Linked DNA regions of Homo sapiens: all the other regions are reported to be linked to region 1. Evidence: microRNA targets listed by miRTarBase, many of them from high-throughput screens and not tested one by one. Region 1 holds a microRNA gene; each other region holds the end of a gene's coding sequence.

The links. The annotated mature microRNA hsa-miR-938 reads UGCCCUUAAAGGUGAACCCAGU and lies in region 1 at 1,898-1,919, opposite strand. An mRNA with a match to its seed (bases 2 to 7 or 8) in the 3' UTR can be bound and repressed. Matches are read on the target gene's strand: a 7mer-m8 pairs with bases 2 to 8, a 7mer-A1 pairs with bases 2 to 7 and ends in A, and an 8mer does both.
Region 2: the mRNA of NUBP1 is a reported target of hsa-miR-938. Seed matches in the 3' UTR shown: 7mer-A1 at 497-503.
Region 3: miRTarBase lists FAM180B as a target of hsa-miR-938. Seed matches in the 3' UTR shown: 8mer at 3,087-3,094.

Annotation. Positions count from the first base shown.
Region 1 is chr10:29,600,414-29,604,552 of GRCh38, forward strand. It overlaps MIR938 (microRNA 938), which reads right to left and starts at 1,933; the gene lies at 1,851-1,933. The region is part of intron 1 of SVIL (supervillin); the gene reads right to left.
Region 2 is chr16:10,768,803-10,772,941 of GRCh38, forward strand. NUBP1 (NUBP iron-sulfur cluster assembly factor 1, cytosolic) reads left to right here. Exons shown (of 11, transcript NM_002484.4): 11 at 245-549. The coding sequence ends at 303. TVP23A (trans-golgi network vesicle protein 23 homolog A) reads right to left here. Exons shown (of 8, transcript NM_001079512.4): 6 at 2,868-2,996; 7 at 1,470-1,529; 8 at 1-299. The coding sequence ends at 1,470. Among named protein-coding and RNA genes, the nearest start is that of NUBP1, 27 kb to the left of the region's middle.
Region 3 is chr11:47,587,642-47,591,780 of GRCh38, reverse strand. It overlaps FAM180B (family with sequence similarity 180 member B), which reads right to left. Exons shown (of 3, transcript NM_001164379.3): 2 at 3,960-4,030; 3 at 2,587-3,742. The coding sequence ends at 3,347. It overlaps C1QTNF4 (C1q and TNF related 4), which reads left to right. Exons shown (of 2, transcript NM_031909.3): 2 at 966-2,114. The coding sequence starts at 971. The coding sequence ends at 1,960. Among named protein-coding and RNA genes, the nearest start is that of FAM180B, 3.0 kb to the right of the region's middle. RefSeq lists a silencer at 2,373-2,573.

The DNA of each region.
Region 1 (4,139 bases):
CGGCACCAGAATCTCTGGGTGGGACCCAGGCATGGGAATTTTTTTAAAGTTCCCCAGGTGAATCAGCGTGCAGCCCAGGCCTGTTGCACCTCCACATCAGATGGAGAAACACACAGGTTGGCTAAGGTGCTGTCAGTGGCAAAATCAGGACTGTAAGAACTCACCATTTTCTTTTATAAACAGCAGCATCATTTACATAGTAAAGTTTGTCACTTGGGGATGCATTTTATACACATATTATTAGAGAATAGGCAATTAACATTTTCTTAGTCCCAGAACATGAAATATTGGGGCACAAAAGGACCCTATGCAAAAACGAAGGGGTAGAATTGTGATGAGAACAACATTCAAACAAATCCTGTGAACCAGGAGAAGGACCGAAAGACTGTTCTAACTAAAACCCCACAATGGCATCTCTCTTCAAGGGACCCGTGCTATGGGACCACTTATCTGATCTGAAGTATAGTCAATACATATGATTATGAAGTTCCGGGTTCTTTCTCACACTCAGTGGTGAACAACTCGCTTCTAGAAGTCAGATTTAATAAAACCACATACATAGACACTCCCTGGTGTCCGCGCGGTTTTAAAACCACTTTTCCTGGCTCCATTTCTCCCTGTCATTAATATACATAACTTATGTGCTGACTTGAAAGGTTTGTATTTTGTTGTGGTTTTCATCCTATCTCAGAAATATGTGACTACAATTATAGACATTGGTCATCCAAGAAAAACAGCTAATGATACCAGCATAAATAAGTTCCTAGAGCAAAAGCATTGAAAAAAAATTTCCCCCTGGATTTTTATTTATTCACTTTGCTTTCCAAAATGCTACATGCCACATTTTAACCTAAAACCAATGTACACATCAGTTTTACCCAATTCCAGAGCTGAAACTGAAAATTATAAAGCTTAAAATGTGCTCCTCTGTATCTATCAACAAGATGCTTCTAAATCGTTATTAGGGAGAATAATGCATTAATGCATTCTTTCTTTAAAAGTAGAAATGTGTTTAAACTGAACTATCCATATTCTTTCACCATAGCATCTAGCCACTTTTGTCCCCAGTTCTAGGAGAGGTTTAAGCCTGAGGCACAATTTGCAACTACTATATAGAATGAGGTTCTTGCCATAGGCGCATTTCAGGATTGAACCTGTGGCTTTCAGCTCTGATGCAGAGAGAAACAGGTGACTGACGGCCTACCATAAATGCAAAGAACAGCCTGGAGAGTAAGAGCCTGGGCTCATCAGACATGAGTTCAAAGCCCAGCTCTAGTGCTTTTTAGCCATGTGACTCAGGCTAATTATCTCCTCTTCTAATGACAATGACTTTAAGGTTGTTCTAAGGATTGATGACATTCACATTTGTAATAGTGCACTCCGCACCATGCAGGCTTCTGATTCTGCTACCAGGTGGCATCATCTCCTGCTCAGCACCGGTTACCTCTTTCCTCTCCCTCTCTCTTTCTTCTCTTCCTCATTATCTGTACTTTTGTCCATTTGATCATTATTCAGTTTGTTGATGGCTGAGTCCTTTATTCTCCTAATTGTTTCTCTTTGTACCAGTTCATTGCTTGTTGGGATCACCACCAGTTCGATTTAGCTAAATGTTGACACAGTATTTGGTATCTACGTGAAAGATTTGGCAGTGATCTTTCAAAACATGGGGCCCTGGATTATTAGGTTATATTTCAATATTTTGCTTTTAACAATTTATGGAGCTATTGGCAACTCTAAACACCTACAAAAGAAATGCTGTCCACGACAAAAGAGTTCTGATCATTTTGCAATGACTTAGGAGAAACTTAATGATGTTTCATGAAGTGCCCCCTGGTACTTTAAGTGTTCATGAAGGCATACCAAGTTCTTAAAGGTGTACCACGGTTCATGAAGGTGCACTGGGTTCACCTTTAAGGGCACATGGTACACCTTCCAACATGCCGTACCTGCTTAACCTGCCTTGTCTCACCCTCCCTTCTCTGCTGTGGGACAACCTGGATCCCAGGCCCCAAAGGCTCAGAGGTATTACATACACTCTTCCATAAAAGGCCTGGGCAGGTGAAGTGTTCACTGCCAGAATGATTTGGGGGAAGAAAGAGAATGCAAATGTTTTTATTCATGATTATAAATTCTTATGAAGTCAGGCCTTCTATGAAAATCTATAGACCTATCAATCATGTACATTTGTAAACTGCAGCTTTCAAGTGGCTTTGCAATATAATGTTTAAAGATGCAAATGGTCAAGCCTGAAAGAAGACTAAATATAATTTTTTTAAAAAAGAAAGGGAGAGGCCGGGCGCTGTGGCTCACGCCTGTAATCCCAGCACTTCGGGGGGCCGAGGCAGTTGGATCACCTGAGGTCAGGAGTTTGAGACCAGCCTGGTCAACATGGTGAAACCCTGTCTCTACTAAAAATACAAAAATCAGCCAGGCGTGGTGGCAGGCACCTGTAATTCCAGCTACTTGGGAGGCTGAGGCAGGAGAATTGCTTGAACCTGGGAGGCAGAGGTTTCAGTGAGCCATGATCACACCATTGCATTCCAGCCTGGGCAACAAGAGAGAAACTCCATCTCAAAAAAAGAAAGGGAGAGGTATATCAGTTGTTTTAAAATCGTTTCATGCCCAGGAAGATGATAATGAAGGACTTCTTACCATCCTGACGACTGAAACTCGAGACTCCTTCCCCTTGCTGGATGTGTTTTGCTTTGGAGGTAAATAAATAAAAGCAAGTGCAGAACAGGACAAGGCTGTGGCCATGCATGGTATTTAGTCCCAGCTGGGAGAAACGATGTGAAAGATCCCCCACAAACCCTGCCCTCCCCCCTCATCCTCGTATCACAGAGAATGAAAATGCAAATAAGATTTCCAACCCTTTCTTCTTTATAAAGAAGAAAAAGAGAAGCAGGGGGAGAAGTTAGTAATTTTGTTTCCTGAAAGACTAAAAATAGGAATCTCTGTATTTCCAAGAAAGAGTTCTGTGGGGCATGCTGTGAAGCAAATAAAATGCTGTATGTACTCATATGAAGCTTTTAAAGCAAAAATGGAAAAGCATTCAGTGAGCAGATGCTTGAAATTTGGTCTCAACCACAGTGAAACAGCTCTGGCTCCCAAGAATTATAATTTATGGCCAGACAGTTCATCTAATTTCTTCACCTGTAGGTTGAAAGCATACTTGGTTTTCAAATTTAATAGAGCAGCTGGCTGGATCATGAGGAAGGTGATGAAATGATATAGGAATGAGCAAAGGGACCCTGCCCTCTCAAAGTGATCACAGTATCTTACTTCATGGAACTACTCACCCAGGGCCGGCCAGACTACATTCTGAACAAAACAGATATTGAAAAGAGCATTTAATGGGCACCTAAGGCATATGTTTTCAAATGACCTAACTGTTATTTTTGGAATTGCATTCAATTCATATAAAATTAGGCTGCTAATAGATGTCATACATAAAGTCAGGACTTGATCCGCAAAGGTGACTATGTAATAAGCCCACAGTACAGTCTTTAAAAATCCAATTTACATTTGTAATTTTTTGACTCATGTGATTGAATAAAGTTAAAAAGTGGCAGAAGAATATTTCACAGTGAAATATTTCCGCCCCCTTCCCCATTTCTGAGGTGCCAGTTACAGTAGTCGCCCCATGTCCATCGCTTCCTTTTTCAAGGTTGCAGTTATCCATGGTGCAGTACAATAAGATATTTTGAGAGAAAGAGAGGCACCACATTCACATACCTTTTATTACAGTATCTTACTAGAATTGTATTTTATTATTTATTATTGTTCCTCTTTTTTTTTTTTTTTGAGACAGAGTTTTGCTCTGTCACCCAGGCTGGAGTGCAGTGGTGCCATCTTGGCTCACTGCAACCTCCACCTCCCGGGTTCAAGCAATTCTCATGCCTCAGACACCTAAGTAGCTGGGATTACAGGCATGTGCCACCATGTCTGGCTTTTTTTTTTTTTTTTTTTTTTTTTTTTGGTATTTTTAGTAAGAGACAGGGTTTTGCCACGTTGGCCAGGCTGGTCTCAAACTCCTGGACTCAAGTGACCTGCCCACCTCGGCCTTCCCAAAGTGTTGGGATTACAGGCGTGAGCCATTGCGCCTGGCCATATTGTTGATCTTTCATTGTGCCTTTATT
Region 2 (4,139 bases), not on the chromosome of region 1:
TTCCCAGAATCCTCCATCTATAGATGGTCCGAGGAAGGCCGCAGCCACTGGTTATGAGCAAGATGGGTAGTGTGAGGTATTCCGGTCACTTTCAAAGACTCAGGGCATCACAGACACAGGTCTTTTTATGGAACTAGCCAGAGGATTCCACCCCTGTCAAAACACAGCCCTCCCCAGCACAGGACAGGGCTGTCAAGGGGTAGACAAGCCATTAGCACTCTATGCCTGTCGTCTTGTTTTCCAGGAATCCAAGAGTTTTGTAATCTCCATCAGTCAAAAGAAGAGAACCTCATCAGTTCCTGAAACGAGAGAATGTTCAGGACCAAGCAGTTACCGAGCGAGGCACTCACTGGGCAGCACATCCAGCCAGACCCGACCAGCTCCGGGATGGGGTGGGTCACAGCAAAAGGACCAGATGCTGGTGTGGTCCGAAGCCACTTTCTCAGAGACACTTTAATCATTGAGTATTTGTACACTTTTCTTTAGAACATATATAAAGGGCATTCTCTACAAATGTGCCGTTTTAAGAATAAAACCCCCTCAAATCTCTCCCCCGAGGCCTGTTTCACGTAAAAAACAAATGGGTTGTGGGATCGTGGGATTCTGCTGTGTCGGAAGCTTAGTCGATTGTAGAAACTCCCGTTTAAGCCATTTCTGCCTGTGAAGATAAGAAAGCCTAGAAAAGAACCAAAGGGGTGAGTGTGCGGCTTCACTGCAGAACACACAGGCTTGTTTTCAAACACCACAGTCCAAACGCTTTTCTTCAGATTGAGGAAAAATCTAAAAGCAACAGAGCTCAGGCTGGGCTTCGTTCTAAAATCACTGCATATGACACAGCTGGGTCAAATCAAAAAGCCCTTGAAGAGTCCTTGAATCACCCAGTAAGACAGAATGTGGGGTCTGTGTAAATTCCCTGTGTAGTAATATGTGCACAGTATATCCAGTAATGTCCAGTGTCATGCAAACCAACTTTCAGGTTTTTTAATTATATAAAAAAGAGGGACAGATGTAAACTCTACGATCATCCTCTTTGCCATGAGGTGCTTGCTCTGTTTGAGACACACAGGATCTGAGACCACGTGGGAGAAGAGTAAATTCCTGTTTTCCCTCCACTCTGGGGCATAAAAGTGGGTGGGTGGGAAACAAGAACAAATCCCCTTGTTCTTTCCCTCCCTTGTCTCTTCCCTCCCCGCCCTTCCCTAGGACCATACATATGATCAGATTTGCACATGTTCAGTGTGAGGAAGGTGTGACCTCGCCCCCCGACCCCCAGCTCCTCACGCCAAGAGCAATGAGGCTGCAAAGCCCAGGGCAGGCCCATTGCCCAGTCTGCTTCCTGCCTGGTCACATGCCTGGCCACCCCAGGGAACAGGGGAAGCCCACCCAGACCCCGGGCCCCTGTGCCCCAAGAGCTGCATTTTTCAGAATTCCCCAGTTCCTCCACACGGGTGCCATGATCCATTTCTCACCTAATGCTGGTGAATCTCCAGCCCCTCGAGGCCAGGCTTCTGAAAGTCACCTGGGCAGGCCTGCAAGGGGAAAAGTCAACCATGGTTTTCTGTCCTTACACGCGAGTGGGGCGATCCTGCTGATGGAAGGCCAGAGAAAACCCACAAAGTACAGAAAACCTGCGGAATTGGTTGCTTGATGTCTTGGCATAAAGCAGTGCTGTTCAAATTTAGGACGGTTCTACCCATTTCAGGATGAACCTGGTCAAATTTCAAAGACTTCTGTCTCTCACTTTTAGAAATATCTATTAAGTTAAAAAAAAAAAACAAAACAAAAACAAGCTGGGCACGGTAGCTCCCGCCTGTAATCCTAGCACTTTGGGAGGCCAAGGCTGGTAGATCACTTGAGGCAAGGAGTTCGAGACCAGCCTGGTCAACATGGAGAGACCCCGTCTACTATAAATACAAAAATTAGCCAGGCATGGTGTTATGCACCTGTAATCCCAGCTACTTGGGAGGCTGAGGCAGGAGAATCACTTGAACCCGGAGCCGGAGGTTGCAGTGAGCCAACACATGCCATTGCACTCCAGCCTGGGAGCAGAGTGAGACTCCCATCTCAAAAAAAAAAAAAAAAAAAAAAAAAAAATTGAAAAACCGTTTGTGACTCTTTCCTTAATTCTATACTTTTAAAAATCACTGAAAACTAACAATGGCAGTCACAAAAGGACAAAAACTATAATTGCACTTATAGGAGGTCCCTAGGGCTGTCAAACCAATAGATACAGAAAGCAGAATGCTGGTTGCTAGGGCTAGGAGGCGAGGAGGAGGGGGAGTTAGTGTTTTGTGGGTACTGAGCTTAAGTTTTGCAAGATGAAAGCAGTTCTGGAGCTGGGTGGGGTGAAGGTTGCACAATAAAGTGGTTATACTTAATGCCACAGAACTATACATTTTAAAATGGTTACAATGGTACATTTTATGTAAATCTTACAATTAAAAAACAAAACTGCCAGGCACAGTGGCTCACTCATGGCTGTAATCCCAGCACTTTGGGAGGCCAAGGCAGGCGGGCTGCTTGAGCTCAGGAGTTCTAGAGCAGCCTGGGCAACATGGCAAAACTTCGTCTCTACAAAAAAAAAAGGCCAGGCATGGTGGTACACACCTGTAGTCCCAACTGTGCCAGAGGCTGAGGTGGGAGGATCGCTTGAGCCCAAGAGATGGAGGTTGCAATAGGCCGCGATCACACCATTGCACTCTAGCCTGGGTGACAGAGCGAGATCCTGTCTCCCAAAAAATATATAAACAATAAAACATTGGCAGCCTGGCGGATATGTTACATTACAAACCGCAGTTGCCAGCAGGCCACCTTGACTTTGACTACCTGGAGAGGAGTGGTCCAAGAGTCAGACCTCAGTTACTCACCGTCTGGAACACTGTCTGGGACAGGAAACTGGCTGTGACCTTGCCAATGTCACTGTTGCCTCCCATCTTACAAAGGATGTAGCCATACAGGTTTGCAGCTTGGAGAGAGATCCCAGCAACCACCAGAGCCTGCACTCAGACAAAGAAAGCAAAGGTCACTTTTTTTTGAGACAGAGTTTCGCTCTGTCGCCCAGGCTGGGGTGCAGAGGCACGATCTCAGCTCACTGCAAGTTCCGCCTCCCGGGTTCACACCATTCTCCTGCCTCAGCCTCCCGAGTAGCTGGGACTACAGGCGTCCGCCACCAGGCCTGGCTAATTTTTTTGTATTTTTAGTAGAGACACTGTTTCACCATGTTAGCCAGGATGGTCTCCATCTGACGCAAAGGTCACTTTCTAAGAGCATTTACAGAAATGCACCTCTCAAGCCACGTAGAAATGCTCTAGCCTGCACCTAAGAATAGTAACAGCCAACATTTACTGAGCATTTGCAAATACCCACGGACACCTCAGAATCATTACAACTGGAGAGGTTGCCACCATCATCATCCCATTTTACAAAGAGGAAACTGAGGCTCAGGAAGACGAAAGCTGCCCAAGGTCACAGAGCTGGAGCGTGGTCGAGCCGGGATCCAAATTCCAGGGCCCGCACTTTCATTAAATGACACTGTTGTTTTACTATCTACAAATATTTTGTTTTCTCTATTTATTGATTTTTTTTAAGACGGAGCCTCACTCTGTCACCCAGGCTGAAGTGCTGTGGCACGATCTTGGCTCACTGCAACCTCCGCCTCCTGGGTTCAAGCGATTCTCCTGCCTCAGCCTCCCAAGTAGCTGAGATTACAGGCGTGTGCCACTACGCCCAGCTAATTTTGGTATCTATAGTACAGACAGGGTTTTGCCATGTTGGCCAGGCTGGTCTCAAACTCCTGACCTCAGGTGATTCACCTGCCACAGCCTCCCAAAGTGCTGGGATTACAGATGTGAGGTACTGTGCCAGCCTGTGTGAGTCCATTTATATGAAATGCCCAGAATAGGCAAATCCACAGAAACAGAAAAATTAATAGGTGCCAGGGCTTGGAGGAACAGAAGCACAGGGAAGCAATGTCAAAAGGGCGCAAGGCTTCTTCCGGTGATGAAAATTTCCTAACATTGATGGTGGTTTTGGCTGTACAACTCTGTGACTGCACTAGAAGCCACTGAATTCCACACTTAGTATTTATTTTATTTTTTGGAGACAAGGTCTCACTCTAGCACCCAGGCTGGAGTGCAGTG
Region 3 (4,139 bases), not on the chromosome of region 1:
TAGGGGCAAGCCCAGCAGACAGGGCTGTAGGCCTCTTTAACCAGAGTGTTTCTGCTAGTCTGTGTTCAAGCTTTCACTTAAGAAAGGGGTTTCGGCCGGGCGCGGTGGCTCACGCCTGTAATCCCAGCACTTTGGGAGGCCGAGGCAGGCGGATCACAAGGTCAAGAGATCAAGACCATCCTGGCCAACATGGTGAAACCCTGTCTCTACTAAAAATACAAAAATTAGCTGGGTGTGCTGGGTGCAAGCCTGTAGTCCCAGCTACTTGGGAGGCTGAGGCGGGAGAATCGCTTGAACCTGGGAGGTGGAGGCTGCAGTGAGCCGAGATCAAGCCACTGCACTCCAGCCTGGCGACACAGCCAGACTCCGTCTCAAAAAAAAAAGGGGGGGGGGCGGGGTTTCAAGGCCAGGCGCGATGGCTCACGCCTGTAATCCCAGCACTTTGGGAGGCTGAGGCAGGTGGATCACTTGAGGTCAGTTCAAGACCAGCCTGGCCAACATGGTGAAACCCCGTCTCTACTAAAGATACAAAAAATTAGCTGGGCGTGATGGTGCGCACCTGTAATGTCAGCTACTCAGGAGGCTAAGGCAGGAGAACTGCTTGAACCCGGGAGGTGGAGGTTGCAGTGAAACGAGATCGTGCCACTACACTCCAGCCTGGTTCACAGAGCGAGACTCCATCTCAAAACAAACAAACAAAACAAAGAAATGCAAATTATCAGGCCCATCACAGACCTACTGAATGAACTCTGGTGATGGGGCCCAACTATGTATGTTTGAACACGCCCTCCAAGTGACAGTGAGGCTCGCTAGAGTTTGAGAATCCAAGGATGTAGGAAAATTGAAACCTACTTGTGGGTCAAGGGCAGGGCTGGGAAGAGAACCCTTGTCTCCCGGTGGAGAGCCGGGCGTTTGGAAGCCGCCCCTGCCAACACTCCACTCTCGCCCCTCCGTCTCCCTCCCAGGCGCCATGCTGCCGCTTCTGCTGGGCCTGCTGGGCCCAGCGGCCTGCTGGGCCCTGGGCCCGACCCCCGGCCCGGGATCCTCTGAGCTGCGCTCGGCCTTCTCGGCGGCACGCACCACCCCCCTGGAGGGCACGTCGGAGATGGCGGTGACCTTCGACAAGGTGTACGTGAACATCGGGGGCGACTTCGATGTGGCCACCGGCCAGTTTCGCTGCCGCGTGCCCGGCGCCTACTTCTTCTCCTTCACGGCTGGCAAGGCCCCGCACAAGAGCCTGTCGGTGATGCTGGTGCGAAACCGCGACGAGGTGCAGGCGCTGGCCTTCGACGAGCAGCGGCGGCCAGGCGCGCGGCGCGCAGCCAGCCAGAGCGCCATGCTGCAGCTCGACTACGGCGACACAGTGTGGCTGCGGCTGCATGGCGCCCCGCAGTACGCGCTAGGCGCGCCCGGCGCCACCTTCAGCGGCTACCTAGTCTACGCCGACGCCGACGCTGACGCGCCTGCGCGCGGGCCGCCCGCGCCCCCCGAGCCGCGCTCGGCCTTCTCGGCGGCGCGCACGCGCAGCTTGGTGGGCTCGGACGCTGGCCCCGGGCCGCGGCACCAACCACTCGCCTTCGACACCGAGTTCGTCAACATTGGCGGCGACTTCGACGCGGCGGCCGGCGTGTTCCGCTGCCGTCTGCCCGGCGCCTACTTCTTCTCCTTCACGCTGGGCAAGCTGCCGCGTAAGACGCTGTCGGTTAAGCTGATGAAGAACCGCGACGAGGTGCAGGCCATGATTTACGACGACGGCGCGTCGCGGCGCCGCGAGATGCAGAGCCAGAGCGTGATGCTGGCCCTGCGGCGCGGCGACGCCGTCTGGCTGCTCAGCCACGACCACGACGGCTACGGCGCCTACAGCAACCACGGCAAGTACATCACCTTCTCCGGCTTCCTGGTGTACCCCGACCTCGCCCCCGCCGCCCCGCCGGGCCTCGGGGCCTCGGAGCTACTGTGAGCCCCGGGCCAGAGAAGAGCCCGGGAGGGCCAGGGGCGTGCATGCCAGGCCGGGCCGGAGGCTCGAAAGTCCCGCGCGAGCGCCACGGCCTCCGGGCGCGCCTGGACTCTGCCAATAAAGCGGAAAGCGGGCACGCGCAGCGCCCGGCAGCCCAGGCCCCTGCGCTGTCTTGACTGCGACGCATTCGCCGGCGGCAGGCGGGAAGGTGCTGACTACTGCGGGCCCGCAGGCCCGGGGAAGGGGTTGGAGGTTGGAAAGCAAGGTCCCCTTGGACCCTGGGAGGGTGAGGAGGTGGGAATTTGATGGAACCACATTCGCCTAGTCCGTTGGGGGCCTCCCTTTTATATCCCTACCTCGTCTAGCCCTCTGACTCATCATTGACCTACGACCTCAGCCTTAGCCCCCGGCTGATGCCTTTCTGTGACAAGGAACAGCACCCCATTACCCCACAGGGTGCATGGGATTCAAGGAAACAGTGCATTCCTTCTTCCAGCAGGGCGTGGGAATGAGATGAGGAGTTGATACCTGGTTGCCCTGACTCTTGCCTTCCCGGGATGGGGAGAGTGATTTGCCCAGAGCAGGGGTTAGACGCTTATTCCGACATAGAATGACACAGGCTCCAGGAGGCCGAAACAGAACATTTTATGAGAAGAGCAACACAGAATCAGGGCCACACCTGCTCCAGCCCACCTCCGCTTGTCTCTCCTTGGTCTCCCAGCCTTACTCCCCCCTCTGAGGTATTCACCCGACGCTTGTTGAGATATTGCCTCCCTACCCCAAAAGAGATAATGTTCCTCCCTCCCCCTGCTTCCCTCCACTCTTCCAACTGACAGAACTCAAAAAGTCGATTCTCCCAACCCAGATGGGAACTTGGAGGCTCAGAGACCCCAAATCCTTGGTTGTGCCTAAAAGGGGATGCTCAGCACCTAGAGGATTCCTGTGAATTCCACAGGACCTGTCACAGACTGCCAGGGTAGGAGTTGGAAGGTCTGACCAGGCCTTACTTGGGGCAGCTTCCCTTCAGCATCTCTTGAACACACTTCTCAACCCTGACCCCTGATCTCCACACACACACACACACACACACACACACACACACACTCACACACACACTGCCTGCAAGTCGTGCCCTTAGCTCTGTGCCCACTCCTTGCGCACTCCTTGCGACCCAGAGCCTGGGTTCTTAGCCTCTCAAGATCTAGGAAACAAGATCTGGTCGGGGTAAGCAGAGAGGGGGTGTCCAGGGTGCAAGCCAAGCCCAGAGATCTGAACACGGTGAAAAGAATCAGATGCCAGACAGAAGCCCCTGCGCAAGATGGGTCTGCCTGGGGGGTTGAGGAGGAGATGGGAGGGGGTAATGGCAGGTGAAAGAACAAAAGAGGAGGGTCAGGGGAAGGGGTCAAGGATGGAGGCCCAGGACCCCAGGGAAGGGGGCCGGTCCTGGGGGCAGAAACCTTTGCACAGGTCCCAGAGTGTTTCCTGTGCCAGGAGAGCGAAGACCTGGGCCCAGCGGCCCCGTTCCTCAGCCTCACTAGCTGCGTGGAGCCGGTAGACGCAGGACAGGCCTGTGAGGAGCAGATGTTCAAAGTCCCAAGTGCTAAGAGGAGGCCCCTTCCGCAGGTCCTGGAGCTGCTGCAGCCACTGCTCAGTGCCCTCCAAGTCACTGGGCACGTGGTGCTGCAGGAGGAGTCTGAGTCGGCGGCCTGGGTGTGTGGACGCTAGTTCCTCATCCTGGATGTGCAGCTGCCCCATGACATCCAGCTCCAGCCCAGCCCAGAGCAGCTGCAAGGGGAGCCATGTAAGGGGTGGGCTGTGGCCTGGGGAGCAGGGCAGGGAGCAAGAGTGGGCTGGGGGAAGGGGCAGAAGCAGGCAGCAGGACGCATGCTGGCTTGCCCCACCCAACCCTAGCAGGTCCACCCTGAGACATCCCCCTTCCCAACCCTGAGCTTAGGGACCTCTGGACGTGCCCACCCCCATGTCCCAGGCTGGGAGGAAAGACCTCAAACATCACTTCCGGGGCCTCTGGCTCCTGCAGGCCACCTCCCACGCTGGTGCTGTCCATGGGCTGCCCTGGGGCAGCAGAGAGGAGTCAGGCCCCTGCCATGCTACACCATGAACACCCCAGCCTCCCAGAAGTGCCCCTCTGCTGCCTGGTAGAGGTCCCGAGTGCTTCATCATT